Linked DNA regions of Homo sapiens. The protein of the gene in region 1 interacts with the protein of each later gene in a biochemical or structural test. Each region holds a gene or a part of one and is shown in the gene's direction. Other genes may lie near its edges.

The links.
Region 2: the proteins of PDZRN3 (region 1) and SDC4 interact in a test that uses a peptide from one of them, tested with the Homo sapiens proteins (one large-scale study listed by IntAct).
Region 3: the proteins of PDZRN3 (region 1) and MUC3A interact in a test that uses a peptide from one of them, tested with the Homo sapiens proteins (one large-scale study listed by IntAct).
Region 4: the proteins of PDZRN3 (region 1) and KCNJ4 interact in a test that uses a peptide from one of them, tested with the Homo sapiens proteins (one large-scale study listed by IntAct).
Region 5: the proteins of PDZRN3 (region 1) and DGKI interact in a test that uses a peptide from one of them, tested with the Homo sapiens proteins (one large-scale study listed by IntAct).
Region 6: the proteins of PDZRN3 (region 1) and FKBP4 interact in a test that uses a peptide from one of them, tested with the Homo sapiens proteins (one large-scale study listed by IntAct).
Region 7: the proteins of PDZRN3 (region 1) and EFNB3 interact in a test that uses a peptide from one of them, tested with the Homo sapiens proteins (one large-scale study listed by IntAct).

Annotation. Positions count from the first base shown.
Region 1 is NC_000003.12:73,383,398-73,387,571, reverse strand, and holds part of PDZRN3 (E3 ubiquitin-protein ligase PDZRN3), read left to right. Parts: intron 1-1,786; coding exon 1,787-1,903; intron 1,904-2,641; coding exon 2,642-4,174. UniProt on the Homo sapiens protein: E3 ubiquitin-protein ligase. Plays an important role in regulating the surface level of MUSK on myotubes. Mediates the ubiquitination of MUSK, promoting its endocytosis and lysosomal degradation. Might contribute to terminal myogenic differentiation.
Region 2 is NC_000020.11:45,338,012-45,342,185, reverse strand, and holds part of SDC4 (syndecan-4 precursor), read left to right. Parts: intron 1-4,174. UniProt on the Homo sapiens protein: Cell surface proteoglycan which regulates exosome biogenesis in concert with SDCBP and PDCD6IP.
Region 3 is NC_000007.14:100,955,534-100,959,707, forward strand, and holds part of MUC3A (mucin-3A precursor), read left to right. Parts: coding exon 1-4,174.
Region 4 is NC_000022.11:38,444,772-38,448,945, reverse strand, and holds part of KCNJ4 (inward rectifier potassium channel 4), read left to right. Parts: intron 1-4,174. UniProt on the Homo sapiens protein: Inward rectifier potassium channels are characterized by a greater tendency to allow potassium to flow into the cell rather than out of it.
Region 5 is NC_000007.14:137,584,505-137,588,678, reverse strand, and holds part of DGKI (diacylglycerol kinase iota), read left to right. Parts: intron 1-1,468; coding exon 1,469-1,582; intron 1,583-3,332; coding exon 3,333-3,470; intron 3,471-4,174. UniProt on the Homo sapiens protein: Diacylglycerol kinase that converts diacylglycerol/DAG into phosphatidic acid/phosphatidate/PA and regulates the respective levels of these two bioactive lipids.
Region 6 is NC_000012.12:2,797,578-2,801,751, forward strand, and holds part of FKBP4 (peptidyl-prolyl cis-trans isomerase FKBP4), read left to right. Parts: intron 1-151; coding exon 152-294; intron 295-1,128; coding exon 1,129-1,249; intron 1,250-1,510; coding exon 1,511-1,667; intron 1,668-2,272; coding exon 2,273-2,363; intron 2,364-2,461; coding exon 2,462-2,545; intron 2,546-2,814; coding exon 2,815-3,000; intron 3,001-3,539; coding exon 3,540-3,779; intron 3,780-4,174. UniProt on the Homo sapiens protein: Immunophilin protein with PPIase and co-chaperone activities. Component of steroid receptors heterocomplexes through interaction with heat-shock protein 90 (HSP90).
Region 7 is NC_000017.11:7,708,202-7,712,546, forward strand, and holds the end of EFNB3 (ephrin-B3 precursor), read left to right. Parts: coding exon 1-49; intron 50-233; coding exon 234-326; intron 327-433; coding exon 434-538; intron 539-965; coding exon 966-1,375; 3' UTR 1,376-3,171; downstream 3,172-4,345. UniProt on the Homo sapiens protein: Cell surface transmembrane ligand for Eph receptors, a family of receptor tyrosine kinases which are crucial for migration, repulsion and adhesion during neuronal, vascular and epithelial development.

The DNA of each region.
Region 1 (4,174 bases):
AAAAGAAACATTGAATGATAAATAATTAAAACTGATATGACCACCGAATAAGTGCTAGGCCCTCCGTGGAGCACTTTACACACAGGAGAGCCTTCCCAGGAGATGGAAGTTCCCAGAGATTCAAAAGTTACCCAGGAAAGGCCCAGAAGGAGGGTGATAAAGCAGGGAGGGGTTCAGGCCCAAGTAATCTGATTCAGAAACCTCTGTGTTGTAATAACTCCTTCCACAGGAGGAATCATGAACTCACCCAGGTGGCACTCTTGATCCACTTAGAATGGCTCCAGCAACACATCTAGGGCAATCCAGTAGTAGATCTCTTTAGGTATGTGTATTAGTCCGTTTTCATGCTGCTGATAAAGACATACTCGAGACTGGGTAATTTATAAAGAAAAAAGAGGTTTCATGGACTCACAGTTCCACATGGCTGGGGAGGCCTCACAATCATGGTGGAAGGCAAAAGGCACGTCTTACGTGGCAGCAGGGAAGAGAGATGAGAACCAAGCAAACGGGGTTTCCCCTTATAAAACTATCAGATCTCATGAGACTTATTCACTACCATGAGAACAGTATGGGGAAAACTGCCCCCATGATTCAATTATCTCCCACGAGGTCCCTCGCACAACACGTAGGACTTATGGGAGCTACAATTCAAGGTGAGATTTGGGTGGGGACAGCCAAACCATATCAGTATGAAACCCGATTGAAAAAGCCGAGAGACAGACAGTGGCATACGGGGCATCTGATTCTCCACAGATGGGAGCCTCATGAGCTCAAAGGGAACTTCAGCAATCATCTCACCCACAGTCACAGACTTTTTCTTAAAGGGCCAGATAGTAAATGTTTGACTTGGGTGGCCATACCATCTCTGCCATGACTGCTAGACTGTCACTCTAGTGCAAAAGCAGCCATAGACAATTATGTCAGCGAATGAGCATGGCTGTGTTCTCATTCAACTTTTTTTATTATTATTTATAAAAATACCAGGCTGGATTCAGCCCATGGGCTATAGAGTGCCAACTTCTGAATAGTTCACTCTTTTTTGGGCAAGGCAGATAAAGGCCTCTTAAAAGTGATATCCAGCCAGGCTCAGTGGCTCACGCCTATAATCCCAGCATGTTGGGAGGCTGAGGCAGGAGGTTCACTTGAGGTCAGGATGAGGCCAGCCTGGCCAACATGGTGAAACCCAATCTCTACTAAAAATACCAAAATTAGCTGGGCATAGTGGCGCATTGCCTGTAATCCCAGCTACTCGGGAGGCAGAGGTTGCAGTGAACCTAGATCGTGCCACTGCACTCCAGCCTGGGAGACAGAGTGAGATTCTGTCTCAAAAAAAAAAAAAAAAAAAGTGATATCTTGCCCAAGCCAAACAGCTAGTTACTGTATCAGAAAGAACTCTTTTCACACTGAAAATCATTTTTCTATGGGACCTGTTAAACTCGTGTCTGGTCCAGCAAGCAGGTGGACCAGCTAAATCTACCTGACCCTCCTACACAGGTGTCCTACTGCACTGAAGGTAGCTGAGATGGATGAAAGAGTTTCACCCTGAAAAAAAAAAATCATGGATATTAAAGACTTCCCCAGATGTAGTGTAGGGTTGGAGGTCTGTTTAATGTAAGGGTTGGATAGTTTCCTGACTTAACAGCAAATCATTGGGCAGACTGCATTTTGATGACTCTTGGAGGAAGCCCTAGAAATATTTTCCCCCAAGGTAATGTCATTTTTAAAAAAACATAAATGAACATGAAAGGAAACTTCTAAGGCATGTGTTGGCTGCTCTTGCCTGCAGCTGGATGAGGGCTGGATGGATGATGACAGGAACGACTTTCTGGATGACCTGCACATGGACATGCTGGAGGAGCAGCACCACCAGGCCATGCAATTCACAGCTAGCGTGCTGCAGCAGGTAACGCCCACGCACCAGTCCCTGACACTCTGCCCTGCTGAGCTGGAGGAAAATCTGCTTCCTCCATCTCCCTTTATGGTGCTAAAGACCATCAGAAGTCCATCCACCTGGAAGGCAGCAAGAAAACAGCCTCAAGTACTTTTCTATTTGAGCACCAGACCAGTGAAATGCAAGCTGGTACTGTCCCTAGCTAAGCTTTTAAATCTAAGCAACATTGCCAAAGCAAAGCTGACCTTCTGATAATTTGTTTGGAAAACATATGCGTTGGCATTACCATAGATTGCAAAAAGCCATGTTTTCCAAAGTAAAGCAATCCCCTCTGTTTAACAGGAGCTGCTTGGAGCTCTCTAGCTCCCTGCTATGCTACTACCATTGTCAGAGTCTTAATGAGCCACTTATTGAGTCCTTATTGAGTTGAACAAGGACCTTTATACATCCTTCTACCTGTGTACTGATTCATTTAACAGAATCATTGAGAATCATTCATTGAGATAAAGTGACTATTATCCTCATTTTACAAAACTGAGGACAAGAACAAGAATAAGTGACTTGCCCAGGTAGATACGGGTAGGTGTAGCTAAGGCCCACGCTATTGACGTGGTCCTACTGTCAGATGCTGTCCCTTGGCCTTAGAAATGTACAGCCTGCCCTATCCAGAAACCGCAAGGAAAGGTCAAACCTGAGTACCTGCTGCGCAGGCCTCCCTCACTGTGACCCTTTGTTCTTGTGTTTATGCAGAAGAAGCACGACGAAGACGGTGGGACCACAGATACAGCCACCATCTTGTCCAACCAGCACGAGAAGGACAGCGGTGTGGGGCGGACCGACGAGAGCACCCGTAATGACGAGAGCTCGGAGCAAGAGAACAATGGCGACGACGCCACCGCATCCTCCAACCCGCTGGCGGGGCAGAGGAAGCTCACCTGCAGCCAGGACACCTTGGGCAGCGGCGACCTGCCCTTCAGCAACGAGTCTTTCATTTCGGCCGACTGCACGGACGCCGACTACCTGGGGATCCCGGTGGACGAGTGCGAGCGCTTCCGCGAGCTCCTGGAGCTCAAGTGCCAGGTGAAGAGCGCCACCCCTTACGGCCTGTACTACCCTAGCGGCCCCCTGGACGCCGGCAAGAGTGACCCTGAGAGCGTGGACAAGGAGCTGGAGCTGCTGAACGAAGAGCTGCGCAGCATCGAGCTGGAGTGCCTGAGCATCGTGCGCGCCCACAAGATGCAGCAGCTCAAGGAGCAGTACCGCGAGTCCTGGATGCTGCACAACAGCGGCTTCCGCAACTACAACACCAGCATCGACGTGCGCAGACACGAGCTCTCAGATATCACCGAGCTCCCGGAGAAATCCGACAAGGACAGCTCGAGCGCCTACAACACAGGCGAGAGCTGCCGCAGCACCCCGCTCACCCTGGAGATCTCCCCCGACAACTCCTTGAGGAGAGCGGCGGAGGGCATCAGCTGCCCGAGCAGCGAAGGGGCTGTGGGGACCACGGAAGCCTACGGGCCAGCCTCCAAGAATCTGCTCTCCATCACGGAAGATCCCGAAGTGGGCACCCCTACCTATAGCCCGTCCCTGAAGGAGCTGGACCCCAACCAGCCCCTGGAAAGCAAAGAGCGGAGAGCCAGCGACGGGAGCCGGAGCCCCACGCCCAGCCAGAAGCTGGGCAGCGCCTACCTGCCCTCCTATCACCACTCCCCATACAAGCACGCGCACATCCCGGCGCACGCCCAGCACTACCAGAGCTACATGCAGCTGATCCAGCAGAAGTCGGCCGTGGAGTACGCGCAAAGCCAGATGAGCCTGGTGAGCATGTGCAAGGACCTGAGCTCTCCCACCCCGTCGGAGCCGCGCATGGAGTGGAAGGTGAAGATCCGCAGCGACGGGACGCGCTACATCACCAAGAGGCCCGTGCGGGACCGCCTGCTGCGGGAGCGCGCCCTGAAGATCCGGGAAGAGCGCAGCGGCATGACCACCGACGACGACGCGGTGAGCGAGATGAAGATGGGGCGCTACTGGAGCAAGGAGGAGAGGAAGCAGCACCTGGTGAAGGCCAAGGAGCAGCGGCGGCGGCGCGAGTTCATGATGCAGAGCAGGTTGGATTGTCTCAAGGAGCAGCAAGCAGCCGATGACAGGAAGGAGATGAACATTCTCGAACTGAGCCACAAAAAGATGATGAAGAAGAGGAATAAGAAAATCTTCGATAACTGGATGACGATCCAAGAACTCTTAACCCACGGCACAAAATCCCCGGACGGCACTAGAGTA
Region 2 (4,174 bases), on another chromosome or scaffold:
TCTCTACTCTGCTCTGAGAACACAGGAGGTTTGTTTACATCCCGAGAGCCTCCCTAGCCCTCGGATCCAGCAGGGATTTCGGATCTGCTGCCTAGATTACAAGCTCCAACTTCAATGCACCTCTGTCTCTGAGGCCCTGAGGGAGCCAGCCCCCTCCTGGCTGTCTCCACCGGTAATCGGAGCAATGCCCAGCTTGGTTACTGGGCTGGGACAGAGGGAGGCTTGTCTCTTTGAGACCTGTCTTTTACAGATTGGAAAACTGAGGCTCAGAGAAGGGAATTGTCCACGATCATCCAGGGAGTTAGTAACAAGGGTGCTGGGTCAGCTCCTGGCAGGGAGACATCCAGAGGCTCCTGAACCCTTCCCCCATTTCTAGCTGGCACCCTAGGATCCTGGAGTTCTTGCTGTGGGAATGGGCTGCCCTGAGGCTTGGTGAAAAGCTGGTTGCAGGCAGTGCCAGGCCTGGCTCTCTCCTGAGTGATTGTGTTCAGAGTAACCCGACCTTGAAGGCGACATTTGAACCCTCACTCCACCCCCACCCCCAGACCTGGTTTAACCATTCAGGCACCAGAGCACCAGACCATGGATTGGTGTGTAGTTTCTTTTTACCTTCTAGATTTTTATTTATTTATTTTGTCCCTGGGGACCCAGGTCCCCAAGTAGAATTTCAGGTGTTTCTGGTCACTGTCATTTGCACCTTCGGGGAAAATAAAAATGGTCTTTACCTCTGTCTGCTTAGGACAGGTGGTCAAAGCTGTGTGACCTTGGGCAGGTCTCTGACTATCTCTGTATCTTTTTTTCACAGTCTGAAGGGACCTGATTGGTTGTTGAAAAGTCTCTGGGCTCAGAAGCAAAATGATAACCTATTATAGATTATATTCCTTTACAGTTTGCAAAGCACCATCTCCCTGTCCCCAGGCTAGCTTCCTTCCAGCAACAGAACTGCCTCTGCAAGTTTTCCCAGGCCTCTGATCCTTTGAGCACTGATCCCACTGGCCAGGAGGAAGGCAGGTAGGGGTTAATCACAGCCACTATTCATTGATCACGTGCTGGGTCCCTTGCACACACAAATGCATTCCTCTTAATCCTCATCACCCTGCAAGGTGCTACCAGCCCTAGTCACAAAAGAGGAAACTGAGGATTTCAGAGATGAAATAAACTCCCAAGCTCATATAGTTAGGAAGTGGCAGAACTCACACTTGTGAATCTGCCTTGATGCACAACCACTCTGGGTGGTAGAGTCACAGTTGTGGGCCCCAGGTTTTAGCCATTCTGGGGAATGTCTGGCCCTTAAGAAGTGGGTGGGGTGGGGAAGAACAGTTACGAGTAGTGTACGCTGCTGGGGGTCTCCTGCTAGAAATCATTCTGGTGGGTCCAGGTGTTGGAGCCCCAGGTACTCACCATCCCCTCTCCCCACTAAATTTGGCTTGCCCAGTTATTACCCTTCTGGTCTTGCCTCCTGAAAGAAGGGTCAAGTGTGTCCCCGACCCTACCTCCCCTGGGGAGGAGCCAGGTCGGGAGAGGCTCTCATTAGTTCACAGTTATCCAAGCCCTGACCCTGAACTCCTCTCTGGTGCCCCAGCCAAGTTTCTGTTCCTTTGTTTAAGTGATATCACTTTCACCTTTGTTTACTCCTAGGCAGGGACAGGGTTGCCCTGGAGCCCTGGCCCAGCCAGTGTGTTGTGGACTGGCGGGTTAGGCTGGAGAGAAGTGAAGAGTGGGTGGCAGTGAGAAGCCTAGTTGTGGTTGGGACGTGTTCTTGAGGAAGATCTGGATTTGAATCCCAGCTCTAGCTTTCTAGTTGCATGACGTTGGATAAGTGACTCAGCTGAACCTCAGTCTTCTCATCTGCAAAATGGGTAGAGCACCTTGCAAGGCTGTTTTGCCATTTAAATGAACTTGTATAAACAAAGTACCCAGCATGGTGCTTGGCATGTAGTGGATACTCCTTTTAGTCACTCATGCTTTTCCTGGGGTGATAGAAGCCATAGGATTTGGGGATAGGGTTGGGATAGGACCTTTTCGTAGCTTCATGCCTATAGCCAAAAGACTAGATGGGGAGTATAACTGTAATGACAGCTGCTGCCTGTGGATTTGCTGAGACCCTTAGGGGCAGCCAACACCCTGGAAGGGGAGAGAAGATAATTCCAGTCTGGGAGCCAGGATACCTAGGTTCTAAGTCCATCTCCGCTGCCAGCTGCTTGGATGACCTTGGCAAAATCCCTTGTCTTGTCTGTTTGCTAGGTTATAAAATCAGATACCTTCTGTTGGCAGGTGTTAGTTTCTGTAGAACAAAAGAGCACTTCCCCTCCCTTCTTTCTCCCCAACAGTCTGGGGAAGAATGTAGTATCTCTAAACCCCCAGGCACTAATCCCAGATCCCCACCAGCCACAGGGCCAGCAGAGTCTGTGGGACCTAGGCCCATTGCCCTATTTTTTATTTTTTGGAGACAGGGTCTTCCTCTGTCACCCAGGCTGGAGTGCAGTGGCACGATCGTAGCTCACTGCAACCTCGACCTCCTGGGCTCAAGTGATCCTCCCACTTCAGCCTCCCGAGTAGCTGGGACCACAGGCGTGCACAACCACATTTGGCTAATTTTTGTAGAGATGGGGTTTCACCATGTTGCCCAGGCTGATCTCAAACTCTTGGGCTCAAGTGAGCCTCCCACCTTGGCCTCCCAAAATGTTGGGATTAAGCCACTGTGCCTAGCCACCACTGTCTTACTTAGTTGGTAATTTCTGTTGTGTGTTCATGAAAGGGACAAAGATACAAGGAGACTTGAGAGCCCAGAGAGGGTGCCTGTGCATGTATACACACGAACACACATGCCTGGGCAAAGGTGGGGTGAGCTGAGGAGAACAGACCACATTCTTAGCCAGGAGCAGGGCGGGGTCCATCTCTGGTCAGGGCTGGGCCTGGCTGCTGGGTGGCCTGGTTCTTCAAAGTCACCCCAGACTCAATGGGCTTTATCTGAAAAGAGGGCGGAGGAGAGGAGGACCGTTGGTGCCTTCCCAACCTTTACACAAAAAAGAGTGATTGCCCACAATCCCACGGGGCTTGGTCCCGTCTTGCTGGCCTAGTCCTAAATGGCTCTTATCCACTTTGGAGTTGCCTTCCCTCTTGTCAGAGGTCATGGGTGGAGAAGGGACCAAAACAGGGCAGAGAGGGGGCTTCCAGAGCTCAAGGAGAGATTTAATTCCCTGTGTCCTCCTATCACCACTGGGAGCTGGAAGAAGTTTCTTCCCAGCCCCTTGACTTGCTGTAGGAGGGAAATCCTGGGCTCATCTAAATGCAGCCTTTGAAGACTCCATCTTTTCAGAGCTTTGAAATAGGATCGAATCCAGGCCGTGCCGCGGAGCCCCGGGGTGACTTCAGACTAGACTAGTTTCTTTTTTGGAAACTGAGTATAAAAATGAAGGGTTAAGGATGAACAGGTGCCCACAAAGAGGGCTGAACTGGGAATAAATCTTGGTTTCAGCCTTGGTTTTGCTGCTGACTTGGCTGCAAGATCTTCACGCCCCACTTTCGCTCATAGCCTTCATTTCTCTAATGTAAAACGGAGGTAATTCCTAACAGCCAGTGGGCATGCTAATCCCATGGGTTGTTTTGAAATACCTCTTAGCACTTTCACATACTGAAAGAGAGGCTGGATGCATAAACAACCTTCCATGGCTCCTGGGGGCAGTGAGGGGTGGGAAAAGGTCTCTCAGCCTGAGACAAGTCTCCTGATGGAACTACAGCCCCTGTTGAGGACTTTGACCTGGTCAACAGCTGGCCAAAGTGTACCATTCTTTCTTTCTCCCGGCTAGATTGACCCCCCTACTTAACAGGGCTCCCTTGGAGCCTGGGGCAGGCTGGTGACCCCGTGTACATATGTGTTCATGCGTGTGTTTATGTGTTTGTGGTTAAATGTCCAGGTCAGTGAAGCCTGGGTTCTGGCCCAGTGTGGCTACTTCCTGCTTGTGTGGCCTTGGACAAGTGACTTTACTTTTCTGAGCCCTTGTTTCCATCTCTGCAAAAAGGGACTATTAAAAGGACCTAGACAGGCTGTGTGCTTGGTTAAGGCCTGTCACTTGGGTTCTTGGGGGATTTGCCACAGGAGATGGAGGTAGGAGCACAGGGACCCTGCCCTTAGGTATAGGCACTTGGGCAGCCATGAGGAGCCTTCCTCCTG
Region 3 (4,174 bases), on another chromosome or scaffold:
TCAGCATGACCTCTGCCACCACTCCCAGTTTGAGACCAACTATCACAAGTACTGACAGCACTCTAACAAGTTCCCTCCTGACGACCTTCCCAAGTACATATTCATTTTCATCTTCCATGTCTGCCAGCAGTGCAGGGACCACTCACACAGAGACTATTTCCTCACTTCCAGCCAGCACCAATACAATCCACACAACAGCTGAATCCGCCCTGGCACCCACTACCACCACCTCATTCACCACATCCCCAACGATGGAACCACCTTCAACCACTGTAGCGACTACAGGCACAGGTCAGACCACCTTCCCCAGCTCTACAGCCACATTCCTTGAGACCACCACACTGACTCCTACAACTGACTTTTCTACAGAATCTCTCACAACAGCCATGACTTCTACTCCCCCCATCACTTCTTCAATCACTCCCACCGATACAATGACTTCTATGAGAACTACGACCTCTTGGCCCACAGCCACTAATACGTTATCACCACTCACCAGTAGCATTTTATCTTCTACACCTGTCCCAAGCACAGAGGTGACCACCAGTCATACCACAAACACCAATCCTGTATCCACGTTGGTGACTACACTCCCCATTACCATCACCAGGTCTACACTTACATCTGAGACCGCCTACCCTAGTTCTCCCACAAGCACTGTCACAGAGTCCACAACTGAAATCACCTATCCCACCACTATGACAGAGACATCATCTACTGCCACCTCTCTTCCACCCACCTCTTCCTTGGTCTCAACCGCAGAAACAGCCAAAACTCCTACCACAAACTTGGTAACCACCACCACCAAGACCACCTCACATAGTACCACCAGCTTCACTTCTTCAACCATCTACTCCACAGCCAGCACACCCACCACTGCCATCACCTCAGTTCCCACTACCTTGGGTACCATGGTGACTTCTACATCCATGATCCCATCTACTGTGAGTACAGGTATCCCTACCTCACAACCAACAACTATTACTCCCTCATCCGTGGGCATCAGTGGTTCATTACCTATGATGACAGACCTCACCTCAGTGTACACAGTCTCCAGCATGTCTGCAAGGCCAACAAGTGTCATTCCTTCATCTCCCACTGTCCAGAATACAGAAACCTCAATCTTTGTTAGCATGATGTCTGCTACCACTCCCAGTGGAGGACCAACTTTCACAAGTACTGAGAACACTCCAACAAGGTCCCTCCTGACAAGCTTTCCAGTGACACATTCATTTTCCTCTTCCATGTCTGCCAGCAGTGTAGGGACCACTCACACCCAGAGTATCTCCTCACCCCCAGCCATCACCAGTACACTCCACACAACAGCTGAATCCACCCCATCACCTACAACCACCATGTCATTCACAACATTTACAAAGATGGAAACACCTTCATCCACTGTAGCAACTACAGGCACAGGTCAGACTACATTCACCAGTTCAACAGCCACATCCCCTAAGACCACCACACTGACTCCTACCTCTGACATTTCCACAGGATCTTTCAAAACAGCCGTGAGTTCTACTCCCCCCATCACTTCTTCAATCACCTCCACATATACGGTGACTTCGATGACAACTACCACCCCTCTAGGGCCCACAGCCACTAATACGTTACCATCATTTACCAGTAGCGTTTCATCTTCTACGCCTGTCCCAAGTACAGAAGCGATCACCAGTGGTACCACAAACACCACCCCTCTATCTACATTGGTGACCACATTCTCCAATTCCGACACCAGTTCTACACCTACATCTGAGACCACCTACCCTACTTCTCTTACTAGTGCTCTCACAGATTCCACGACCAGAACCACCTATTCCACCAATATGACAGGTACATTGTCCACTGTGACCTCTCTTCGACCCACCTCTTCCTCTCTCCTCACCACAGTAACAGCCACAGTTCCAACAACAAACTTGGTAACCACGACCACCAAGATCACCTCACACAGTACTCCTAGCTTCACTTCTTCAATCGCAACCACCGAGACCCCCTCACACAGTACTCCCAGATTCACTTCTTCAATCACCACTACCGAGACCCCCTCACACAGTACTCCCAGATTCACTTCTTCAATCACCAATACCAAGACCACCTCACACAGCTCTCCCAGCTTCACTTCTTCGATCACCACCACCGAGACCACATCCCACAATACTCCCAGCCTCACTTCTTCAATCACCACCACCAAGACCACCTCACACAGTACTCCCAGCTACACTTCTTTGATCACCACAACCACCACCACCTCACACAGTACTCCCAGCTTCACTTCTTCCATCACCACCACTGAGACCACATCCCACAATACTCCCAGCTTGACTTCTTCGATCACAACCACCGAGACCACATCCCATAGTACTCCCAGCTTCACTTCTTCGATCACCACCGAGACCACATCCCACAGTACTCCCAGCTTCACTTCATTGATCACCATCACCGAGATCACCTCACACAGTACTCTCAGCTACACTACCTCAATCACCACCACCGAGACCCCCTCACACAGTACTCTCAGCTTCACTTCTTCAATCACCACCACTGAGACCACCTCACACAGTACTCCCAGCTTCACTTCCTCAATCACCACCTCTGAGATGCCCTCACACAGTACTCCCAGCTTCACTTCTTCGATCACCACCACTGAGAACGCCACACACAGTACTCCCAACTTCACTTCTTCAATCACCACCACCGAGACCACATCCCACAGTACTCCCAGCTTCACTTCTTTGATCACCACCACGGAGACCACCTCACACAGGTGGGGGACCACCGAGACCACATCCTACAGTACTCCCAGCTTCACTTCTTCAAATACCATCACTGAGACCACCTCACACAGTACTCCCAGCTACATTACCTCAATCACCACCACCGAGACCCCCTCAAGCAGTACTCCCAGCTTCAGTTCTTCGATCACCACCACTGAGACCACATCCCACAGTACTCCCGGCTTCACTTCTTCAATCACCACCACTGAGACTACATCCCACAGTACTCCCAGCTTCACTTCTTCGATCACCACCACTGAGACCACCTCACATGATACTCCCAGCTTCACTTCTTCAATCACCACCAGTGAGACCCCCTCACACAGTACTCCCAGCTCCACTTCTTTAATCACCACCACCAAGACCACCTCACACAGTACTCCCAGCTTCACTTCTTCGATCACCACCACGGAGACCACCTCACACAGTGCTCACAGCTTCACTTCTTCGATCACCACCACCGAGACCACCTCACACAATACTCGCAGCTTCACTTCTTCGATCACCACCACCGAGACCAACTCTCACAGTACTACCAGCTTCACTTCTTCGATCACCACCACCGAGACCACCTCACACAGTACTCCCAGCTTCAGTTCTTCAATCACCACCACTGAGACCCCCTTACACAGTACTCCTGGCCTCACTTCGTGGGTCACCACCACCAAGACCACCTCACACATTACTCCTGGCCTCACTTCTTCAATCACCACCACTGAGACTACCTCACACAGTACTCCTGGCTTCACTTCTTCAATCACCACCACTGAGACCACCTCAGAGAGTACTCCCAGCCTCAGTTCTTCAACCATCTACTCCACAGTCAGCACATCCACAACTGCCATCACCTCACATTTTACTACCTCAGAGACTGCGGTGACTCCCACACCTGTAACCCCATCTTCTCTGAGTACAGACATCCCGACCACAAGCCTACGAACTCTCACCCCTTCGTCTGTGGGCACCAGCACTTCATTGACTACAACCACAGACTTTCCCTCTATACCCACTGATATCAGTACCTTACCAACTCGAACACACATCATTTCATCTTCTCCCTCCATCCAAAGTACAGAAACCTCATCCCTTGTGGGCACCACCTCTCCCACCATGTCCACTGTGAGAATGACCCTCAGAATTACTGAGAACACCCCAATCAGTTCCTTTAGCACAAGTATTGTTGTTATACCTGAAACCCCAACACAGACCCCTCCTGTACTGACGTCAGCCACTGGGACCCAAACATCTCCTGCACCTACTACTGTCACCTTTGGAAGTACGGATTCCTCCACGTCCACTCTTCATACTCTTACTCCATCAACAGCCTTGAGCACGATCGTGTCAACATCACAGGTTCCTATTCCTAGCACACATTCCTCCACCCTTCAAACAACTCC
Region 4 (4,174 bases), on another chromosome or scaffold:
AGCTGGGAGCTTTGGTCTAGGCCTGGGGGGCCCCCAGCAGGGCAGAGGGGAGCTGGGGCATGGGAGGTGCAGTTGGGCGGAGGAGCTCCCTGGGACTGGGATGGAGGAGAAGCCCCCACCAAGCCTGGCCCAGCAGCTCCTGTCTGCGGCTGCATTGGCCTTCTCTCCATTTCCTCTCCTGGGAGATGGAGAAACCGAGTCCGGAGACCACCAGGGTTTGCCCAGGGTCACTCAGCAATGGTGGCAGAGCCTCTCAACCCGGAGCTGCTCCTGACTCCTCTGTGTCCTGATGGCTCCCAGGGCTGCCGGCCCCTCCTCTCTCACTGACACTCCCCAGAGCTGTGGGGTCTGTGGGAGGCGAGCAGGGTCTGGGTCTCTTTAAGCTCCTTCTCCCCAGAAAATCCCCAGATCGGAGCGAGGGGAAGGGCAGCACTCCCTGGTCACAGCAGTAGGAAGGGTGGCCTGCGTCAGGGGCCTGGGATCGAATCCCAGCTCAGCCCCTCACTGGCTCCGCATGACCTTGACTAGGCCACTGTCCATCTGGGGGCCTCTCTTTGCCCCTCTGTGTATCGGGGGCCACCCATGGGGATGGTGGGGCGTGCTCAGCCTTTTCCTGTTTTGCCTGTCCTGGGAGAAGCTCACACACCAGCGACCCGGGCTGCAGGGATGGGAGGGTTCCTTTTTTTTTTTTTTTTTTTTAAGACGGAGTTTCGCTCTTGTCACCCAGGCTGGAATGCAATGGCACAATCTCAGCTCAGTGCAACCTCTGCCTCCCGGGTTCAAGCGATTCTCCTGCCTCAGCCTTCCAAGTAGCTGGGACTACAGGCATGCGCCACCATGCCCGGCTACTTTTTTCTTTTCTTTTCTTTTCTTTTTTTTTTTTTTTGAGAGTCTCACTGTGTCTCTCAGGCTGGAGTGCAGTGGTGCAATCTCGGCTCACTGCAACCTCCCCCTCCCAGATTCAAGTGATTCTTCCGCCTCAGCCTCCCGAGTAGCTGGGACTACAGGCGTGTGCCACCACGTCTGGCTAATTTTTGTATTTTTAGTAGAGACGAAGTTTCACCATGTTGGTCAGGCTGGTCTTGAACTCCTGACCTTGTGATCCGCCTGCCTCAGCCTCCCAAAGTGCTGGGATTACAGGGGTGAGCCACTGCACCCGGACGGGAGGGTTCTTTAGCTGGGCCACAGGAGAGGGTGCATGTGCTGTGGGGAGCTGACCCCATTTTACTGATGGGGAGATTCAGGCCTAGGGGAGGGGTGTGCCCATCTTCAAGTTGGTGGCAGAGTTGGCCCCTGGGACACCTCAGTGAAGCTTCCCCCAACCCCCTGCAGCTCCTCTCCCAGCCCCCACCCTAGACTCCCCCAGGAGCCTCCCCTCTCCTCATAGGCCTGAGAAGCCCAGGACCCTCTGCCCTGTGAGTGTGAAGGTACCACTCAGCCTGGGAGACAAATGGGATGGGGTCCGCAATTAGGGGCTCCTTGGGGCCATACAGGGGAGGTGGTGGGCACAGGCTGGAGAGGCCCTGGCTGGGGGTGAAATGGAGCAGGCAGAGGGGCTTTGGGCATCCTTCAAACCTCGTGCCCATGGATACCCTTCTGCAGTTATCCTGAGAAATGGGCCTCAAGTCCCTCCTCACTGTTCCTCACGGGGAGCTCCCCATCTCCGGGGAAGCCCACTCGTGTCTGGAAGGTTCTGCTAATTGATCCCTGACTCCCTCTTTCCTTCGCCCTGCCCTCTGGGGCAGAGAAACCCAGCCTGCTCTCAGCAAGACAGGAGGAGTGGCCCACCTCCCCCTCCCCTACCCCAAGGCTCCTCCAGCCTCAGTTGTCCCAGGCGAGGCCCGTGACTGGGAAACAGAAGATCTGGGTTCATGTCCAGCTCCACCCCTTAGCAGCTGCGGAATCTGGGGCAGGTTTTTCACCTCTCTGAGCCTTTACCCCCTGCCCCGTAAGGGTGGGCGTTTGCCTCTGTTTCTTTTTTTTTTTTTTTTGAGATGGAGTCTCGCTCTGTTGCCCAAGCTGGAGAGCAGTGGCGCGATCTCAGCTTACTGCAACCTCCGCCTCCCAGTTCAAGCAATTCTCTGGCCTCAGCCTCCCAAGTAGCTAGGACTACAGGTGCGCACCACCATGCTCGGTTAATTTTTGTATTTTTAGTAGAGATGGGGTTTCACTATGTTGGCCAGGCTGGTCTCGAACTCCTGACCCTCATGTGATCCATCCACCTCAGCCTCCCAAAGTGGTGGGATTATAGGTATGAGCCACCGTGCCTGGCCCTTTGCATCTGTTTCTGAGGGTGACTGGGAAGATCCTGTGAGCCTGTGAGTGAATGAATGTATCATAGCTCGTTGATATGAACTACTTTGTGACCCAACCACTCAAGGGCACTGCTGGGCCTGATTTCCAGACCCCCATCACCAGCCACTGCCTTGGGGTACCACTTCTCTGGACAGCTGAGCCTCCCCCGGCCCTCCCTCACCCAGGCCCCCAGAACTGCTTTGGTGGGCAAGGCTGGCTGAGTGCCAGCCCCGCCATGAGGCTTCAGATCCTGAGCCCACCTGACCTTGGAAAGGGCCTCTCTCTGGCTGGGCTCCAAGGCTGCCCCCAACAGACACCCGGCAGTGGCTGGGCAGCAGAGAGAGAGAACTGGGTGGGGCAGAGAGAGGACCACTTGCCAGAGCTGTCCCGGCTCCCTGAGACAACAGGCTAGAGGACAGAGGAGAATGGCCAGCCAGCCACGGGCGGGGCCCCACTTAGCAGCTACATCAGCAGCCCGGCAGAGCTTACTCCTCACAGTCAAGTGGGCTGCCTGAGAAGTGGGTGAGCGCCCTGTCCTGGGAGATGTGTAAGCAACTGCTGAATGGCATCTGTTATCAGGGCAGGAGGGGGCTCTATTAAAAGACCCGGGGAAAAAATTGGAACCAGACCCCAAAGAGTCCCTGTTATTTGGGCTGCAGAGTGGCGGTCCTGTGAGCTGGGGGGTCTAACAGACTTTTCCCAGTATTCCCCCATAACATCCAACAATTCCCCACATGGTTGTGTGTCACAAAGCCCGGAGTCCAAGCACCGCCCGTCACAGCTTCAAGACACACGCCGGATCCCATTTCACCGCTCCTAACCCCCACTCAGGCCAGTGCTTTAAAATTGCACACAGGTCCTGCCCCGTTAGTGGGTTGGGAAATTGACTTAGTGAGTTGCACTACTTGTTTTCCGAAAATGAAATTAAAAAGAAAATTTCAAAATACTATGCATGTAGTGAGGGTAAATATTATTTTGTGACGCTCTTACTTCAGCTTTAAATATATAGCCGGGTGCAGTGGCTCACGCCTGTAATCCCAGCACGTTGGGAGGCCGAGGCGGGAGGATGGCAAGAACCCAGGAGGTTGCAATTGAGCTGTGATCGCATCACTGCACTCCAGCCTGGGCATTGGAGCAAGACTCTGTCTCTAAAAAATAAATATAAAGTAAGTTAAAATAACAAACAGGATGTTTGCTTTTACTACGGATTTTGGTCAAAAAACTTGAAAGCTACTGTCCTGTGTAGAAATCCAGGAGGCGCCCTGATAGAGGTTCTGATGCTCAGGTTCCGATTTCCCTGGATGTTTGGTTCCTAAAGACATAGGTGCCACAACTTCCAGGATGCTGCTGTCCTGCCCTCAGAAGTAGCCGCCTGTCCCTTGCTCAGTGGACCACCCAGGTCCAGGCACCCATGCTCCTCCAGAGCCACCACCTCTCCCCAGGGCCTAGATCCCAGGCCGGGCCAAATTCCCTGCTTTCCGCTCAGCCCAGGCCCAGCCCTGCTCTGTCCTTGTGCCCTCCTGCTTGCCCTCATCTTCCTAGGACCTTCTCTTTATGCCCTTTCACACACACACACGCACACACACGCATGCACGCACACATGCGTGCACGGAGCTCAGCAAAGCCGGTTTGTGACTTACCTGCTTCCCTTCAGCATACAGTAGGTGCTCAATAAATGTTCACTCAATTATTTACAGACCGCCCTCCAAGGCAAGGCACTGCGCTGTGTTGAGACACATCTGGCACCTGGCAGGAAGGCAGATGCTGTTCCAGCTCAGGGGACATTTAGGGTGATGAATGAATGGATGGATGGATGGGGGTCGGCTGGAGTTGGAGATTCTCTGGCCTGAGGAGCCAGTGGGAAGGTGGTCAGCAGTAA
Region 5 (4,174 bases), on another chromosome or scaffold:
CGGTGAAACCCCGTCTCTACTAAAAATACAAAAAATTCGCCCGGCGTGGTGGCATACGCCTGTAGTCCCGGCTACTTGGGAGGCTGAGGCAGGAGAATGGCGTGAACCCAGGAGGTGGAGCTTGCAGTGAGCGGAGATCTTGCCGCTGCACTCCAGCCTGGACGACCGATTGAGACTCCATCTCAAAAAAAAAAAAAAAAAAAGCATCGGTATGTCCATCTTTGTGTTACTGTGAACTCCTGGAGAGCAATCTTTCTACCTTATCTGTCACAGCCTAGCTCATTTATCTCTTTATTTTGATTGCTTAGTTCTGGGTTTTATATGAAGTAGTGTTCAATAAACAAATGATCTAGTATTTTTGAGAAACATGACTCGTACAAATATAGAATGAATACATGTCAAAAAATTTGCTTAGCTCTTTAATGAGGGAGCCTGCAAGATAGTAAAGCTGATTTATCAGAACTAGAGAAAAAGAATTATGTACTTCGTATCAAAATAATTTTTCTAAATTTGATGCAAAACTGATCAACGTCCTATGAGAGAATAAAACTATAAACTTTAAAGCAATCATCTCTTCTTGACATTTGTGTCTCTATAGGACAGAAATCTATGTTAACCTACAGTTACACAATTCTTAGGCCTGCGAAACACTATTTTAGTATGACATTATAAGGACATTCAAACTCCTTTTTGCCATTTCAAATTTTGGTCAATTTTTCTAATTAGTTATAAGACTAAACCCAAAGTATTATTTATCTTAGAAAAAGATTAAACAGGGATATGATTCTAGTATATAAGTATCAATTTCCTGCCTAAACTTATAATAGGTACTAGGTCTGTCCATAATTATGTTTTCATAATGTTTCATTAAGGAAAATAGAGGGATATTCAGGAAAACACTATCAATTTCCAAGATGATACTATAGAGGGCAACCATTTAATAAGTACTTATATGGGCCATGTACCATGTTAAGTGCTTTATGTACATTTTAGTTTAATTAGTAAACAATCGTGTGAGGTACGTATTATTATCCCCATTTTGAAAATCAAGTAAATGAGTCTCAGTGAGGTTAAATAATTTAGTCAAGGTTATGCAGCCAGCATGAGTCAGAATTGAAATTCAGTCTTATTCTGAGTTTTATATTCCCTCCTATGCCCTGTTATACTACCAAAGTCTTAAACTCTGAGAAATTTACAAGGGTGTTTCTAGTTAAACGCACGCATGAATGGGTTTAGTTTTGCTTGTGTGATAGAACATGTGCAAAATGGTCCTTTTTCCTTTAACCATTTTGTAACTGCCTGTGATAAGCGACCTTTCTGTTCCCTACTCACTGAATGAAAACATACATGTTTTAAAGAAAAATAAAACCATTCTGTTTAGCTCTTGGAAGCCTCTGTTTCTCAAACTGTTTTCTTTGTAACTTATTTATCTTTCTTATATCTCTTCTGGCCCCCGATACGCCTGTAGGTGGGCTGGATCCTTTCCATCCTGGATGAACTGCAGCTGAGCCCTCAGCCTCCTGTGGGGGTCCTTCCTCTGGGGACTGGGAATGACCTGGCTCGAACTCTCAACTGGGGAGGGGTAAGAACTGCTCTCGGGGACTGCCCATATCATCAAACAACAAACCGGATTCCAGATCCACTGATGTTCTAATGGAAGAGGGGGGTACTGCTGCTGCTGTCCCAGGCATAAGTTAGAGTTGAGAATCAAAGTGCCCTTGAGCCCTTATTTGATCTGGTAGCTTCTTCAGTTTAAACTTAAAATCAGCTAGAAGGGAAAGGAAAGCTTGGTATGAGAGAAATATAGTGGTTAGTACACAGGCCTGCGGCTTTTTGAGGTATCCACTAAAAGACAGTGGGTGAGTTTGGCCTCAAGTCTGCGTGCAAAAGGATCATACAGACTTCAGTTAATCCAGACTCTCAGCCCCAGCTAGGATAGCACATCTGGTTCAACTTTACACACCTTACTTGGGAGAGTTATGACTTTTTTTTTTTAGCATTTTATTTTGTTTTGTTTTGATTAGTGTCATCAGAGCTTTGGCTGTATAGGTACTTACCTGTCCTTTCCACAATGAAGCCAACTTCAGGCAAGCTTGGGGGAAATCGTTCTGCAGTCACTAAACAGCCATTTATTTACTTACGTATGTTATAGTACTAAGATAGTAAGAAGGCGCAATATATATACACACACTGTGTATATATACATATGCATACACATATACAGCCCCACCAACTTTTTTTTTTTCTTTTTTGAGATGCAGTCTTGTTGTGTCGCCAGGCTAAAGTGCAGTGGTACGATCTCAGCTCAGTGCAACCTCTGCCTCCCAGGTTCAAGCAATTCTCCTGCCTCAACCTTCTGAGTAGCTGGGATTACAGGTGCCCGCCACCCTGTGCAGCTAATTTTTTTTGTATGTTTATTAGAGACAGGGTTTCGCCATGTTGGCCAGGCTGGTCTCAAACTCCTGACCTCGTGATCCACCAGCCTCAGCCTCCCAAAGTGCTGGGATTACAGGCTTGAGTTACTGCACCTGGTCCCCACCAACTTTTTATCTGCTCATATGAGAGCATTACATGGGCTGGGCTCTGTGAAAATTATATTCAGATATTTAGTAGATGCTAGTTGACCTTTGGGCAAATTAACCTTCCACAGGTCTTTTTTTAAAGTAGGCAGTGTAGAAATAAAAAACGTATTTACATGGGGCAACTAAGGTTATCATCAGTGTTAACTTCTCCCTTCCAAATCAGAGCCTTGCATATCCTATTGAGGACAGTCTATCGTGCTGTCAGTAATGGATCTTCAAGGATTAAGTAGCTCCCTAACAGGGCCATTCCTCAGTGAGACTTGCTTCAGGTCACGGGAAGAATGGTGTCTTCCAAGGAGGTCAGGGAGAGGTGATTGAGAGGGAGTGTTAATAGATAAGCATTGTCAATCCAATCCCTCCTTGATTCTTTCCCTGCCTCTCCAAACACATTTGTTTTGTGTTTCCCCCAAATTCCTCCAGTGAGAGCCATGGGGAGTCCTGTTTTTTACTCTGATAACAAAGTAGCCATCCAGCCTCCAGTATGACCCTTAATGTGTACCGGTGACTATTGGTTCTTGCTGCTGACAAAAAATATTCCTCAGCTCAAACCAGCCAGAACTAGTGTTTCTATGTATCTTACTTATAGTATTGTCTCAAATTCTAAGTACCTCAAGGTAAAAAATTTGCTCTTCAAACCTTGCTAATTATAAAATAAACAATATAACGGCTTGGCTCTTCCTTGCGTAAAATAGCATTGGCTTCACTGTTCTCCACTCTGGACAGCAATGGATATGTTCTCTGATTCCTCAGGGCTACACTGATGAACCTGTTTCTAAGATCCTGTGTCAAGTGGAAGATGGGACAGTTGTACAGCTAGATCGCTGGAACCTCCATGTGGAAAGAAACCCCGACTTGCCTCCAGAAGAACTTGAAGATGGCGTATGTAAGGTTAGAGAGTTTTTTGTTCTGCAGAAAGGAGCCCTGGAGCATCTGCCTGAGCTACAGGAAAAAAAATCCTGGCTGGAGAGTCATGTGCTGATGAATTCCTATGAGATAATGTGATAATATTTGAGTTGATGGCTACTGGGGCTATGTGTATAATATTACCACCTAATGATTCTGCCCCATAGACCTCTAAATACCTAGATTCCGTACCTGCTTCCAAAGCTCAGGGAGCTCTTCTCTGTCTTCAACTTCTGCACTAGAAAGGCATGTATTTTGTCTTAATCATTCATGTTAATAGCAAATAACCTATGAGAAGATGAAAAAATATGTATATTTGTAAGCATTGGGCACTTGTTCTTTCAGTAGAAATATAACCTCCTGAGATTTCTGGCCTGATATAAAATATATCTTACGTTGAAGAGGTATTAACTATGCCAGTGTTACCACTTGGGTGGGACTTGAAGATACCTCAATAAATGTTTTGACTTCATGTTATTTAAAAAAAAATTGACTTTTATTTTAGATTCAAACTGCATATGTGCAAGTTTGTTTCATGGATATATTATATGATGCTGAGGTTTGGGGTATGATTGATCCCATCACCCAGATAGTGAGCATGTTAACCAACAGGTTTTCAATCCTTGCCCCTCTCCTTCCCTCTCTACTCTAGTGGTCCCCAGTATCTATTGTTGTCATCTTTATGTCCA
Region 6 (4,174 bases), on another chromosome or scaffold:
CTTAATACAACCAGGTACCTCACCTTCTGGTCCCATTTCTAAAGGATGTCCAGCTTCCCCATGAGTGTGGTGCAGTAACTCTTCAGGAGCACTGTTTGAGCCCAGAATCAGAACCCTGCTAAGGCGGTCCTGTTTGCTTCTGTACCTGCAGGGGAGGTCATCAAGGCTTGGGACATTGCCATAGCCACCATGAAGGTGGGGGAGGTGTGCCACATCACCTGCAAACCAGAATATGCCTACGGTTCAGCAGGCAGTCCTCCAAAGATTCCCCCCAATGCCACGCTTGTATTTGAGGTGAGTGTTTGGTCACTGAGATCCAGGCTAAGAGCCAGGCCTTATCTCAGCCCAATGCCTGGCTGCCCTCCAGCCCTTCCTGCTTCTTGGAGACAATGTAGCCAAGGCTGAGGGTCTGGCCTTATGGGAGGAGAAATGCAGAGGGCTCTGCTGCTGCTAGTAATGGAAGTAATAGAAGCTTCGGGTGGGAAGAGGCAGGCACAAGCCCCTCTCCAGACTCAAAGCATGGTCAGGGTTAAGGCATCTTTATCTCCAGAGCGGTACCCAGAAGAATACTGAAAGGAGTCGGGATGTCAGAAACTATGTCCCGTTATAAATGGCAGTACAGAATATTGGTGCTCTAGAGACCAGAAGAGGGAGCAGTAGCTCCCCTGTGGGTCAAGGGCTGAGAAAAGGCTTCACTGAGGAGATAGAACTTGACATTGTTCAATCTGAAAATGGTTGAGCCAATCCGTGGGCCCTTGAATACTGAGAAACTGCTGAGAGATGTTGGGTAATCATTTCTAATACCTACCAGGTTGGGCTTATCAGGTAGTGTGAATTAGGATTATCTGGGACGCGTCCTGATATGTCCGTGTTAGTAGAGCAGGTAGCAAATAGATTGCTCTCCTCAGCTTAACTGAAATCTATGTAGTCTGCCCACCTCTACCAAAGTTGAGATTAGGGCAGCTCCCAAGAACTGAAAAAAAGTGCCACTCTACCCAACTCCTTGTGACTGCCCTTGTGGTCAGATCCGGCCTGGCAGTTAGTAGGGACTCTCTCGGATGAGAAAGATTGTGTTTCACTGCCCATGAGTTAGCATGGGAAGGAATTGTGTCACATCTTGTCCCACAGGTGGAGTTGTTTGAGTTTAAGGGAGAAGATCTGACGGAAGAGGAAGATGGCGGAATCATTCGCAGAATACAGACTCGCGGTGAAGGCTATGCTAAGCCCAATGAGGGTGCTATCGTGGAGGGTGAGACAGTACAGTCTGGGCTTTCAATTCTCATTCTGATATTTAGGCCTTGTGTGGCTTTGGGCAAGACACTTCCGTTCTCCGAGCCTATCTTCTTGTCCATAAAATGAGGGGTTGGACCATATTCTCTTCATATCACTCCAGATTTGAGAACACAGGAGAATCTTGGGATGATGGGGGTGATGCAGGGAGGCTGATGGCATCCTTCCTCAGTCACCTGCCCTCTTACAACTCTGGTACACTGCCTCTCTTTCATGCCAGTTGCACTGGAAGGGTACTACAAGGACAAGCTCTTTGACCAGCGGGAGCTCCGCTTTGAGATTGGCGAGGGGGAGAACCTGGATCTGCCTTATGGTCTGGAGAGGGCCATTCAGCGCATGGAGAAAGGAGAACATTCCATCGTGTACCTCAAGCCCAGGTGAGGGGTGGGCACTTCGTAGGGTAGGCAGGCAGGCAAACCAAGATCAAAGATATAAAATGAATTGTAGAACCAGCTGTTTGTATCCTTTTTAACTCTGGCCACACCAAACATACACCATTATGATATCCTCAGTGTACTTAGAAGTATGGCCCAATTGTCTACATCTCCTTGGATCTAAGCCCAGTCTTTTCAGTCATAGTTGCTACAGATTCTCTCCTCTGCCATCAAGATTTTCCTCTCCCATTAATTCATTTCAGTCATTACTGAAACAGCTACTACATGCCAGGCACTGCTGAAAATTCCTATAGGGCTTCAGAGACTAATAGAACATTGTTTCTGCCTTCTAATTCTAGCTCATTGTTTAGTGAGGTGCTATTTAAATTAGTAATCACACTGCTGCCTGGCTGTAAGTTATTAGAAGGGTATGAAGGATGCTGAGGGACCATCTGACAGTGTGAAGAGGCCAGGGAAGATTTGCCAAACATTTGAACCAAGTCTCAAGGGATGGGAAGGTACTTTCCAGGAAATGGACAGGAAGCCTTTTCAGCCTGGAGCAGGTTAAGTGTTGCCAAGATGATACATAGTGTTTTTCACCCCTCCAGCTATGCTTTTGGCAGTGTTGGGAAGGAAAAGTTCCAAATCCCACCAAATGCTGAGCTGAAATATGAATTACACCTCAAGAGTTTTGAAAAGGTAAGTTTGCTCAGGGTCTTCCCATCTAAAGTCAAGTTCCACCCTGTACGTGACTCTGGGGTAGCTGACAACTTTGTTTCTCTCCTGGGGTGTGGCAGGCCAAGGAGTCTTGGGAGATGAATTCAGAAGAGAAGCTGGAACAGAGCACCATAGTGAAAGAGCGGGGCACTGTGTACTTCAAGGTGAGCCAACAGTCATTGTCCTAAGGACACTCCCAGGAAGAGTTGCTCTGAGCCTCCCCTTCCCTTGGTGACTGAGATCATTTTCTGCCAAGAAGTGGACAGGTTGGCACCTGCCATCTTCACTTCATATATGTGAGCTTGCTGGCCTTGCCAGTGGGAAGGGTGGGAGCAGGAACCTCTTGTGGCCATGTGTCACTGATGTCTGCAGGGTATAAGAGCCTAGTACCACTGAAACTGTGCCAGGTGCCTGAGCCTCTCTCCCATTCCAGGAAGGTAAATACAAGCAAGCTTTACTACAGTATAAGAAGATCGTGTCTTGGCTGGAATATGAGTCTAGTTTTTCCAATGAGGAAGCACAGAAAGCACAGGCCCTTCGACTGGCCTCTCACCTCAACCTGGCCATGTGTCATCTGAAACTACAGGCCTTCTCTGCTGCCATTGAAAGCTGTAACAAGGTGAGGCCCCCTCAGAGGTCATGGAAGCAGCATTCACAGGCAGAGTTGGGTGAGCTGCCAGCATGTCTGAAACTTCCCCTTGGTGACTAGGGCAGGGATAGCAGGGTGGATCAGTGGGAGCTCTGAGGTTACAGACCAAAGGCACGGATGCAAGTATTCATAGCAAGAACCTTAGCTTTGGTGGGAAGCAGTTGGCAAGAAGGAGGAGGACACGGAATGGGAAGAATCACATAAAGAGTTTTCTTCCACCTTGGTTCTTAGCCTCTCCGCTTACCTACTTGCTTTATTCTAAAGTGAATGTTAATGTCTGAAGTCTTTATTTCATCCAAAGACCTGCTGTCTTCCCTCTCTGCCTGTTGGATTAAATGAGGTCCCTGGATTGTTCCATTTAATGCCTCAGGCCTTGTTCTTCCTGGGGTGCAGCCAGCCACTTGCATTCCTCCTCATCCTCCTGAGGGGTACCTTTGGAACCCAGTCTAGGCCAGATGAGCTACAAGCCCTGAGCTCCCACAATGTGGCTTCCTCTCTGCATTCTTTAGGCCCTAGAACTGGACAGCAACAACGAGAAGGGCCTCTTCCGCCGGGGAGAGGCCCACCTGGCCGTGAATGACTTTGAACTGGCACGGGCTGATTTCCAGAAGGTCCTGCAGCTCTACCCCAACAACAAAGCCGCCAAGACCCAGCTGGCTGTGTGCCAGCAGCGGATCCGAAGGCAGCTTGCCCGGGAGAAGAAGCTCTATGCCAATATGTTTGAGAGGCTGGCTGAGGAGGAGAACAAGGTGAGGATTGGGGTGGGGAACAGTTGGAATAGCATCCCTCCACTTAACCTGGCTACTGTGGGCTCTTTGTGCCTTTGGTTGTCTGTGCCAATCCCGGAAACCAGAAGTTGCCTTTTCCCTGGAGCATTAAGGAGCACGTGTTCCTGCTGTTGGGGCCAGTGTTCTGTGATCAGTGCGGGAAACCTACCCACAAGCCCCAGAAGTTGGGTTGGTTGCCCTGAGTGTAATTCCCGATTTATGTTTTCTTGTGGGCCAGGCGCCGTGGCTCACACCTGCAATCCCAGCACTTTGCAGAGCCAAAGTGGGAGGATCACTTGAACCCAGTAGGTAGAGACCTCAGTGACTTAGGATGGCACCACTGCACCCCAGCCTGAGTGACAAAATGAAACCCCATC
Region 7 (4,345 bases), on another chromosome or scaffold:
AATCTCTGGGGCCACGAGTTCCGCTCGCACCACGATTACTACATCATTGGTACTGCTGGGCAGAGGGCACGATTGAGTGGGGGGCTCCTGATACTGAGCAGAGAGGGAGGGGGACCCCTGCAGCCAAGAGGGAGATCCCAGTGCCCTCAGGCAGTGTTCACACCAGGGTGTGGGGCCAGAATCAGGGCTAGATTCTGGAGTGCCAACCTCTTCCTCTGGCTTTTCTCTCCCAGCCACATCGGATGGGACCCGGGAGGGCCTGGAGAGCCTGCAGGGAGGTGTGTGCCTAACCAGAGGCATGAAGGTGCTTCTCCGAGTGGGACAAAGTGAGTGGGGCTGGGGGACACCTCCTGGGCACGAAGGGACGTTGGGGCAGTACGATCATGGTTGGGGCAGTTGTCTCAGCCCCTCTCTGGGTCTTCCTCATCTCCAGGTCCCCGAGGAGGGGCTGTCCCCCGAAAACCTGTGTCTGAAATGCCCATGGAAAGAGACCGAGGGGCAGCCCACAGCCTGGAGCCTGGGAAGGAGAACCTGCCAGGTAGGAACCAGGGGCTAGGCCCCTGCCTTCCCCAGCTTCCTCTGCTCTCAGACCCCAGCTGCCCTGCCGTCACCCTCCCTCCCTCTTCAGTTTTGGGGGCGGTGATACAGGAAAGAGGAGAAGAGAGGATGGGAGGGTGGGAGGGGAATGGAAACCAAATGAGGAAAAGACTCAATTAGAACTAATTAGCCAAGTCAGTGCTTCAATCAGTGCTGTCAGAGAAGTGGGGAGGACTCCGTGGCAGGAAGCTGAAGGGCTGGACACCTGGATTCTGAGCAGAGTTCGGAGGGGGAGGAGAGATGGGGTCCCCAAGGGGCCTGGGCGCTACAAGGGAAGCCCATGGGGACCCCCAGGGTTGGGTGTCCAGGTGCCCAGGTGGCTCCTTCAGTCCCTCCCCCTCTTTCCTCCTTCACCCCTTCCCTGCCAGGTGACCCCACCAGCAATGCAACCTCCCGGGGTGCTGAAGGCCCCCTGCCCCCTCCCAGCATGCCTGCAGTGGCTGGGGCAGCAGGGGGGCTGGCGCTGCTCTTGCTGGGCGTGGCAGGGGCTGGGGGTGCCATGTGTTGGCGGAGACGGCGGGCCAAGCCTTCGGAGAGTCGCCACCCTGGTCCTGGCTCCTTCGGGAGGGGAGGGTCTCTGGGCCTGGGGGGTGGAGGTGGGATGGGACCTCGGGAGGCTGAGCCTGGGGAGCTAGGGATAGCTCTGCGGGGTGGCGGGGCTGCAGATCCCCCCTTCTGCCCCCACTATGAGAAGGTGAGTGGTGACTATGGGCATCCTGTGTATATCGTGCAGGATGGGCCCCCCCAGAGCCCTCCAAACATCTACTACAAGGTATGAGGGCTCCTCTCACGTGGCTATCCTGAATCCAGCCCTTCTTGGGGTGCTCCTCCAGTTTAATTCCTGGTTTGAGGGACACCTCTAACATCTCGGCCCCCTGTGCCCCCCCAGCCCCTTCACTCCTCCCGGCTGCTGTCCTCGTCTCCACTTTTAGGATTCCTTAGGATTCCCACTGCCCCACTTCCTGCCCTCCCGTTTGGCCATGGGTGCCCCCCTCTGTCTCAGTGTCCCTGGATCCTTTTTCCTTGGGGAGGGGCACAGGCTCAGCCTCCTCTCTGACCATGACCCAGGCATCCTTGTCCCCCTCACCCACCCAGAGCTAGGGGCGGGAACAGCCCACCTTTTGGTTGGCACCGCCTTCTTTCTGCCTCTCACTGGTTTTCTCTTCTCTATCTCTTATTCTTTCCCTCTCTTCCGTCTCTAGGTCTGTTCTTCTTCCCTAGCATCCTCCTCCCCACATCTCCTTTCACCCTCTTGGCTTCTTATCCTGTGCCTCTCCCATCTCCTGGGTGGGGGCATCAAAGCATTTCTCCCCTTAGCTTTCAGCCCCCCTTCTGACCTCTCATACCAACCACTCCCCTCAGTCTGCCAAAAATGGGGGCCTTATGGGGAAGGCTCTGACACTCCACCCCAGCTCAGGCCATGGGCAGCAGGGCTCCATTCTCTGGCCTGGCCCAGGCCTCTACATACTTACTCCAGCCATTTGGGGTGGTTGGGTCATGACAGCTACCATGAGAAGAAGTGTCCCGTTTTGTCCAGTGGCCAATAGCAAGATATGAACCGGTCGGGACATGTATGGACTTGGTCTGATGCTGAATGGGCCACTTGGGACCGGAAGTGACTTGCTCCAGACAAGAGGTGACCAGGCCCGGACAGAAATGGCCTGGGAAGTAGCAGAAGCAGTGCAGCAGGAACTGGAAGTGCCTTCATCCAGGACAGGAAGTAGCACTTCTGAAACAGGAAGTGGTCTGGCTGGAACTCCAAGTGGCTTAGTCTGGGGGATCAGGAGGTGGGAGGTGGATGGTTCTTATTCTGTGGAGAAGAAGGGCGGGAAGAACTTCCTTTCAGGAGGAAGCTGGAACTTACTGACTGTAAGAGGTTAGAGGTGGACCGAGAAGGACTTTTCCCAGTCTTCAGTGGCACTTCCCAAGATCTCCCTTCCCTTGTGCTCTGTGCTGATTTTAGGACAGCTAAGATGACTGCCATGTGCTGTGGCAGGCCTAATTTGTCTTGTTCTTTCCTTTCCATATCCCAGTATAATCTCTGTTAATCAACAGGACTACCCCAAGAACCCATGTGCTCTCCCGAGTAACCCAGATGGCTGTCTTGTTCATTCCATCCTACATTTCTGACTCCTTTCAGACTCAACACAGTTCCCTTCTTAGTGACCAAAATGGTGGCCTACTGGCTGGTCTAGCTGACAGTGGTACTTAGCAAAGGCCACTGTTTCCATAGTGACCAGCTGATACCTCTTCCTGCCCTCTAGTGTGCAATTGGGTGTTGCCTCAGTTTCCTCCCAGCTCAGTTTTATTAGATCAAAGCTGTTGTTGGGCACCAGGTTGGCCACCTCAATCACCAGCCAAGATGGTTGCTTTGTCCACCAGAGGTCAAGTTCACCTCTCTGGTGCTGTAGTTCCCAGCTCCTTCCTGATTTTTCTAATCGCTCCTTCTGGGGAACAGGAAGTTGATATTGCCATGGTGGCGGGGTATGCCGTCACCTCAGTAGTTTTACTGTAAAAGGGAAATTTGAACAACAAAAACCAAAAAAAATAAAAATAAAAAACTTCAAAAGTTGACAAGAAGGCTGGAGAATGACTGGACTTGAATTGGGACAAAGGCTTGGTTAGAATGGCTTTCAGCTGAGGGTTGGATTGCATGAAACCAACCAAGGGGGGTGGGTAGGGATAGGGCTAGTTTGGAGTGGTGAGGTTGGCAGTGCTTGGGGAGGCGAAAATGGGCTGGGCGAGAAGGCAGAGGAAGGTGTCACCTCTAGGGGAGGGAGAGAGTAATGCAGGCAGGAGTGGGGTCGCCAATTCATCCATGGGGACAGTCTGAGTGTCTTGCTAAGCCAAAGCACCAGAGACAGGGTAAGACGCAATTAGGATCAAAGTGGTAAAAACATGTTCACATGTTAAAGTCTATTCCCTACCATCCCTACCCAAGGCACTTGAGAAGTTTTGCTGTTGGGGACTCATGGGGAGAAGGGATGTGGCTGATCAGAAGGAAGTAGGAAGGACTCAGGGAGGGACCCAGGCATCAAGCTGCGTGTGCCCTGGCTCCCTGTATACCCATAACCGAGGCTCTTCTCCCCCAAAAAGCCCAGGTGCCCAGTCCCCTAGACTTAGCCCCATTCTCCAACCACAAAAGCAGCCGTCAGGAGCATCACTGGAGCGAGTCAGCAGGGGTCACAACCTCTGCCCTCCCTGCCCCTCCCCTGACTTTAGGTCCCCTCCCGCTGTCTCCCATCTGTCTGGAGGTCAAGGGGTCCCTCTTCCTCTCTTCTGTCCAGTGGGACCCCTGCTCCTCCCCCTCCCCGTCTGAGCAAGATGCCTGGGTCTTGAGAGGTGCGGGCACCGCAGGAGGGGAGTTGAAAGCTGGGAGGCCAGGTACTGGGCTGTCTGGAATTTACTCTTGCCTTCTGAGCCCACACTGGAGCTGCCCGAAGTGGGGAGGCTCGTAGGGGGTGGAAAGGCTGGTCCTTGCCCCTTAGTGGGGGTTGGTTGTCATGGCAACATCCCCTTCTCTACACAATGGGAAGCCCCCCTCAGCCTCCCGCGTGGATGGAGCCGACAGCCCCATCGCTGGCTATCAGCCTCAGGGACTTGGCAACCGTCACTATGGCAACCCAGAGCCCAGCAACAGGGCCCACTGAGAAAGGGAGGGGTCCAAGACTGGGGCAGGGTGGTGTGTGAGGGGCAAGGGAGATCAGGGAGACTCCCCCTCCACCTACATCTAGAGGCACAGGTGGAG